2 linked regions of the Homo sapiens genome follow. The protein of the gene in region 1 purifies or fractionates together with the protein of each later gene. This does not show direct contact. Each region holds a gene or a part of one and is shown in the gene's direction. Other genes may lie near its edges. The genes, in order: LSM11 and TOP3A.

What was found.
Region 2: the proteins of LSM11 (region 1) and TOP3A fractionate together in Homo sapiens (co-fractionation; one large-scale study listed by BioGRID). This does not show direct contact.

What each region holds. Positions count from the first base shown.
Region 1 is NC_000005.10:157,746,409-157,750,228, forward strand, and holds part of LSM11 (U7 snRNA-associated Sm-like protein LSm11), read left to right. Parts: intron 1-3,820. UniProt on the Homo sapiens protein: Component of the U7 snRNP complex that is involved in the histone 3'-end pre-mRNA processing. Increases U7 snRNA levels but not histone 3'-end pre-mRNA processing activity, when overexpressed. Required for cell cycle progression from G1 to S phases.
Region 2 is NC_000017.11:18,304,677-18,308,496, reverse strand, and holds part of TOP3A (DNA topoisomerase 3-alpha), read left to right. Parts: intron 1-72; coding exon 73-146; exon of another isoform or gene 147-184; intron 185-1,001; exon of another isoform or gene 1,002-1,024; intron 1,025-1,530; coding exon 1,531-1,606; intron 1,607-3,276; coding exon 3,277-3,385; intron 3,386-3,820. UniProt on the Homo sapiens protein: Releases the supercoiling and torsional tension of DNA introduced during the DNA replication and transcription by transiently cleaving and rejoining one strand of the DNA duplex.

The sequences.
Region 1 (3,820 bases):
TTAAAATGATGTATTTCATCAATTCAGATCCAAGTTACCCATCCAAATTCACAGAGAGGACAGTGTGGAATGTTTATGAAAAAACAAGGAGTGCAAAATTAAGTGTAATGGTGTTTTAACTGTAAAATATTTCACTTTGTATCTCTGTCATAGAATCTCTTTGAATTCCCTTGTGGAGCAGTTGTATTCTTTTCCTTGCAGTAATAAAATTTTAAAAGTAGCCAGGCACAGTGGCTCACACCTGTAATCCCAGCACTTTGGGAGGCCGAGGCGGGCAGAACACTTGAGGCCAGGAGTTCAAGACCAGCCTGGCCAACGTGGTGAAACCCTGTCTCTACTAAAAATACAAAAATTAGTTGGGCATGGCAGCATCTGCCTCTAGTTCCAGCTGTTCAGGAGGATGAGGCACGAGAATCGCTTGAACCCTGTAAGTGGAAGCTGCAGTGAGCCGAGATCATAGGGACATCATAGAGACCTCTACAGAGGTGATACGAGGTCTCAAAAAAAAGTAATAATAAAAGTATAGGAGGCTGTTGCAATACTGGGAATACTAAAGAAGAAAAAAAGCATAGGAGGAAAGGTTTTTCGTCATCATTAAGCCTAAGCCATCACTGATACCAACAAAGAACTCACACACAAGCTGTACTTGCAAGTGGAATGCAATTGCTTTTCCTCCTTTTTAATATTGACATGCCTATAGAGATGGTAAGACAAGACTAAAGAGCATTATCCTCTTTTCCACATAATTCTAGTGTCTATATTTCTCCTTAGTATCGCAGCACCATACCTAGCCCACGGTGGTTCTGGTTTATAATTGTGCTTCAAGCAAGCTTTTTCTAGGTATATCTGTCACTGTGAAATGAACTGGTGTGTTCAAGCTCACGTCTTGACATTATAAAGCTGTAAGAAAAAGTGTTATCATTACTTTGTTTTAGCTACAGGTGTGTTGGTGTGCAGCCTGTGCCGGTGTGAACAAGTGTGTGTGGTCAATCCAAAATGCATATGACATGCAGGGTTTGGCTCCTAGACCATTGTCTAGGTGAATGGCTTGTCTCCAGTTCCAAATTCAGTTTTCCTGCAGGGAGCCTACACAGTCCTTTTACTCGCACACATCCTGCTGAGAAGGATTTCAAAACAAACCTGATTTATTGGGCCTCTGACGTGATACCATGATTGAAAATTTGTTTGAGTCCTGTTGTTGTAGTTTACTTTGATTGCTGAAATAATTTCCCACAATATGGTGTCTTGATGTTTTCATTTTAATAAAGTGATATTCTTTGGATAACTTTGACTTCACTTCCTGCAAATAAAGAGCAAGAAAATAGGCAAAATCAAGAACATCTGAGCCCTGTGTACAGCAGTAAAATGAACTCTCAAATTTGAACAGCATCTCTGTTACACAGAGGTTGCCAAAAGGGCATGAGTATGACTTACATAAAACCGAGAACAGCGGTACTTAGGCTTCAGAAAAGGCCAAGCTTAAAATTCAGCCTTGTCACTTTTCTCAGCTCATTGCAGCTGTTTCCAGTCAGCTGTCTCCAGTGCAACTAAGGAATAGTCTCAGATGATTTCTGCACCACACTGCTGTGTGTGTGTGTGTGTGTGTGTGTGTGTGTGTGTTTAGGCCAGTTTGACATAGCATCACAATAGGGAAGACACTGATGTGCCTTTGCCGGGTCACTGATTCAAACATTGTACTTTCAATCTGTCATGGCACCCTTCTATAGAATGGCAACTAAAACTATTTTCAGAGAAAAGAGAAAATATTTTTCCATTGCAGACTCATAAGGTGACTGTTACAGTTTGTGGTTTCATTTCTCTGGGCCCTTAATAGGTTATGGAATCTGGGGAGCTGCCTTTGCCCTAATGAGCTAATAACTTTGTATATTTGGAGATATATATGTAGATACAGTTTTGTCCTTAAATCTTTGAATAGGTAGTTGTGGAGGCTAAAGCAACTCCATCTTGAATGCCAGTCCACCATGTTGACTTCTGATTAAACCCAGTTCTGGGAAGGCCTCTAAGATTTCCAATTTATCTGTTGTTTCTTGTGTAAGAGCATGTACTTACTGTAATTCCTGTCCTTACATGAGAACAACCTTGACGTTATCTTACTTCAATTGTCCTACACATCCCTTCTGAATCACCCTTTCCCTGTAGCATATAAGCCCTGCATCTGGGGGTCATGGCACGGGGATCCACCATCTTGTTTTGCCGCCACCTGAGACGCAGACGTGGCTTCTGTTCCTACATTCCTATTAAATATTTCTTTCTAAGGAAAACAAGAGTTACTGTAAGAGGCAAGTTTTAGGTCTTTAAAGAAGGGCATGATTGAGAACAGTTATTTTAAAATCAGGCTGTGATGGTATAATTTACATGTAGCAGGAGAAGGAAGAGTGGAGCTGAAAATGACCTGGATCTGGAAGGATGTGGCAATAGAGAAGGGGATTGGAAGAGTAACTTTCTCCAAAGATAAGGCATATGCTTTTTTGTCATATTTGGTCATAGAAACCTGACTCATATCCATTTGGAGCTTGCCACAGAGACGGCTGGAAAGAGAATGTGCACTCTGATTCAGAATGGGGAGCTCATTTTTGCCTTGGCGGTTTGCTCTGATAGGTGGTGCTAGTGTCGTACTTTTGATCACACAAGGATACAAGGAGAGCAATGCTTCCTGGAATTACACCTTATTAAATCTTTGGAAGAAAAAAATTAAAGGTACACGTTTGAGAAAGACCAATTGAAAGACCTGAATTTGCCATCTATTTAATTAGAGTAAGAGACTGTTGCTAAGATACCTGCTTGCCCTTTCTATTTTTGGAGGTGTGGGAAAGAAGTAATGTCCCTGTTTTTTTCCAAGTTAGAAAAAAATAGTCTTTCCACTCTTTGTATAAACATACATCATAGGGCAGGGGGCAGTATATATGTATGTGTAGGAAAAGAAATAATGCAAGCATGTGATCAGTTTCTAAGAAATTGAGTTATTGGGACTTAGTCCTGAAATAAATCTACAAGTTAACTATCTTAACCTCATTTTATGAATGAGGAAATTTGGAACTTAAAGAAAAAGTTATTCATCAGGTTCACACAACTAGTTATAATGACCTGAAAATTGTTTACAATGCTTGAATGCTTGATTTAATATGGCCTATAACACATATACACGCGCGCGCACGCGCGCACACACACACACACACACCCACACACCCATACACACCCTTAGCTAGCAAATGTACAAAGGACTTTAAAATACTGCTAGAAGAGAGGTAAATGATGATGGTCAGACCAGAATTCTCATGGTCTTTTCCAAAGTCACTGCTTCGTGTCGCTTCCAACTCCGAGTTATTCTCACACCGTTAATCTGACATAAACTCCTGCTAGTCTGCTAAGTCATTTTCTTCTAAGAATCTTTTATTAATTTATCACAGCCATCATTTATAAGCCAATCCATGACAGAGGGATAAGGTGGCTTCAGGAGGAACCAATTTAGTTATCCAAACTGAAGTGCAGGACTGTTGTTCTCCTTTATGTCACTAGAAACAAAGCAGGAGAGATTTTTCATTTGTCTACTGTCAATGCCAAATACTCTATATATCCAGACTTCTAAGACCTGACCAAAAATAAACTTTCTACAGAATTTTGCGTTGCAAACTTGGGAAAGAGTGAGACTGTGTACGCACGAGAAAGAGAGAGAGATTGGGGGTGCGTAGTGCGTGCCTGTAGTCCCAGCTACTCAGTGGGTTGAGCTAGGGGGATCGCTTGAGCCAGGGAGGTCAAGGCTGGAGTGAGCTGTGATTGTGCCACTGCACTCCAGCCTGGG
Region 2 (3,820 bases), on another chromosome or scaffold:
CTCATTTTAATGATTTGGCAGAATAATAACTGCAAAAAGACTAACTGAATTTTGAATTTTGTCATCATTCAGAATGTTACCATGGTAATGACTTCAGTTTCTGGACATTTACTGGCTCATGATTTCCAGATGCAGTTTCGAAAATGGTCAGTACAATTCTCAAGGGAAGGACTTTCAGATTATAGTAAGTTGTGAAATTTCACAGGAATTTTGAGGCATGTTGATCTTACTGGGTAATTTTTTTTTTTTTTTTTTTTTTTTTTTTTTTTTTTTGTTGGAGACAAAGTTTCAGAGTGAGACTCTGTCTCCCAGGCTGGAGTGCAGTGGTGTGATCTCGGCTCACAGCAACCTCTGCCTCCTGGGTTCGAGTGATTCTCCTGCCTCACCCTCCCGAGTAGCTGGGACTATAGGCACGTGCCACCACACCTGGCTAGTTTTTGTATTTTTAGTAGAGACAGGGTTTCACCATGTTGACCAGGCTGGTCTCGAACTCCTGACCTCAGGTGGTCTGCCCACCTCAGCCTCCTGAAGTGCTGGGATTACAGACCGTGAGCCACCATGCCCGGTTTTTTTTTTTTTTTTTTTTTGAGTCAGGGTCTCGCTGCGTTACCCAGGCTGGAGTGCAGTGGCGCAATCTCGTCTCACTGCAACCTCCGCCTCCTGGGTTCAAGCGATTCTCATGCCTCAGTTTCCCAAGTAACTGGCCTTACAGCCATGTGCCACTACACCCAGCTAATTTTTTCTATTTTAGTAGAGATGGAGTTTCACCCTGTTGCCCAGGCTGGTCTTAAACAAAGCAGGGTTTGCCTTCTTTTGCCTCCCAAAGTGCTAGGATTACAGGCGTGAGCCACTGTGCCTTGGTAATTTATTTATTTATTTATTTATTTTATTTATTTTTTGAGACGGAGTTTTATTCTGTCGCCTAGGCTGGAGTGCAGTGGCACAATCTTGACTCATTGTAACCTCCACCTCCCGGGTTCAAGCGATTCTCCTGCCTCAGACTCCCGAGTAGCTGGGACTACAGGTGCCTGCCACCACGCTTGGCTAATTTTTCGTATTTTTAGTAGAGACGGGGTTTCACCGTGTTAGCCAGGCTAGTCTCGATCTCCTGACCTCGTGATCCACCCACCTTGGCCTCCCAACGTGCTGGGATTACAGGCGTGAGCTACCACGCCCAGCAGTAATTTATAATACTAAGATGACCTAGGATTATCTGATCCATTGTGAATTTTTATTAAATCTTTAAACAGTCACTTTTGGTGTTCCTCAAAATTGCCAGACCTTTTTCATGCAGCCATTGGATTGCATTTACCTGTGAAAGGGCTCCAGAATGCCATCTTATCAGTCCTGTTCACACTCTTGGAGAAGTGGACAGTGTGTCATGCAGAGGGTCATAGCCTTACTTTCAATTCACCGGGACCTTTTCTTTTGGGGATACACCATGAACCCATTGGAACAGTTTGCTGTCATTAGATTGGAGGGCTCTCTGTCATGTACTGAGTTGGGACTCTGTTTTCATTTCTTTTCTAGGCAGAGCTGCAACCCTCTTGTCCTCTTTGAAGCAGAAATTGAAAAGTACTGCCCAGAGAATTTTGTAGACATCAAGGTAGGGTCTTTTGGAAGACATATGGCACTGAGTCAAACCACAGAGTCAAACAGAGTGATTTCTTTGTTTTTAATGCATTGGCATTTGGAGATAAGGTTTTCCACCAAAGTCACTACCATGATTTAAAAAGCTGGTTCCCACCCATTGTATAAATGTGGCTAAGTGGCCAAGGGACTGAAGTAAACTTTTTTTATGAATGGTAGTTGTTTAAATCCTAGGAATAAAGGCTGGACATGGTGGTTTATGCCTGTAATCCCAGCAATTTGTGGGGCCAAGGCAGGATCACATGAACTCCAGGAATTTGAGACCAGCCTGGGCAACATAGTGAGACCCTATCTCTCAAAAAAAAAAAAAAATTTAACCAGGCATGGTGATGTATGCCTATAGTCCCAGCTACTAGTAAGGCTGAGGAAGGAGGATTACTTGATCCCAGGAGGCAGGAGGTTGAGGCTGCAGTGAGCCGTAATCACACCACCACACTCCAGCCTGGTGAGAAAGTGAGACCCTATCAAAAAATAATCCTAAGTATTGTAAATTATTAGCGCGTAGCCCCCATCTCACCCCTTGTTAGATGAAAGAGGCTACAAAGTATAAATGCCTGTTTGACAGTAAATTGCCAGTTGTCAAGCAGTCAGGGCATGTATAGTTAATTTATTTTTAATTTTTATTTATTTATTTATTTATTTTTTGAGACGAAGTCTCGCTCTTGTCCCCCAGGCTGGAGTATGATGGTGCAATCTCAGCTCACTGCAACCTCTGCCTCCAGGTTCAAGCGATTCTCTTGCCTTAGCCTCTCAAGTAGCTGAGATTACAGGCGCCTGCCACCACACCCGGCTAATTTGTGCATTTTTAACAGAGATGGGGTTTCACCATGTTGGCCAGGCTGGTCTCGAACTCCTGACCTCACGTGATCCACCCGCCTCAGCCTCCTAAAGTTTTGGGATTACAGGTGTGAGCCACCGAGCCTGGCCAGTTAATTTATTGAGAACTGATAAAACTTTGGATGAAATTCAATTGGGATTCATTTTGTTTTGTTTTGTTTTGTTTTGTTTTGAGATGGAGTCTTGCTCTGTCACCCAGGCTGGACTGCAGTGGTGCGATCTCGACTCACTGCAAGCTGCGCCTCCCGGGTTCATGCCATTCTCCTGCCTCAGCTTCCCGAGTAGCTGGGACTACAGGTGCCTGCCACCATGCCCGGCTAATTTTTTGTATTTTTAGTAGAGACAGGGTTTCACCGTGTTAACCAGGATGGTCTCGATCTCCTGACCTCGTGATCCACCCACCTCGGCCTCCCAAAGTGCTGGGATTACAGGCGTGAGCCACCACGCCCAGCCGGCTTCGTTTTTTTTAACTAGGTCATAATCAGAACCTCTCGAAGTGTGCGTGCGCGCGCGCGCGCGCGCGTGTGTGTGTGTTAGAGCTGAATTTCAGGTTTTGTCATATTGGGGAAGTTATATTAAACCCTCTATTCTAGAAACTCGTTTATGGTTCTAAGGGGTTGTATCATGATTAGCACCAATGAGAGCAGTTTTCTCTGTTCTCTTTCCCTTGCCAAGTTGTCACACTCCAAGAGCAGCATTAACCTTCAGTCAGATCCCCTTAGCTTAGAGATGTCAAGTCACTGTTGTGCAATTCTGTTCTCACCACTCTTATTCCACTGCGAACTTAAGAAAACTTTGGAACGAGAGACTCGCCAGTGCCAGGCTCTGGTGATCTGGACTGACTGTGATAGAGAAGGCGAAAACATCGGGTTTGAGATTATCCACGTGTGTAAGGCTGGTAAGTGCTGCTGCTGCTGCTGACTTTCTCTACTTTGGAACTCCATAAATAGAGTGTTCTTGTTTATATGTGCACATGGGCCACGGATGAGGTCCTCTGCAGGTACTCTCCCTCCCAGTCTGTGAGTCCCACCAGCCATGTGTCCTGGAGCAAATCACTGAGCCATTGGGAGCCTCAACTTCCTTGTCTCTAACATCAGGCCAATCTGACATGTTTCCTGGGACTGCCACAGAGATTAGATGAGTTAATGAGTGGTGTAAACCATTTAGCCCAGGACTCATTTCTTGTTAGGTACAAGCATACAAGCAGATACCCGGCTCCTTGAGAACAGGGACTTTATATTCTTTTTGTTGTTGTTGTTGTTGTTATATATTGAATTCTTTTAGTATTTGGTTAATGGAAGCAAAAATAGAAAAATAAAATTACATATTGAAT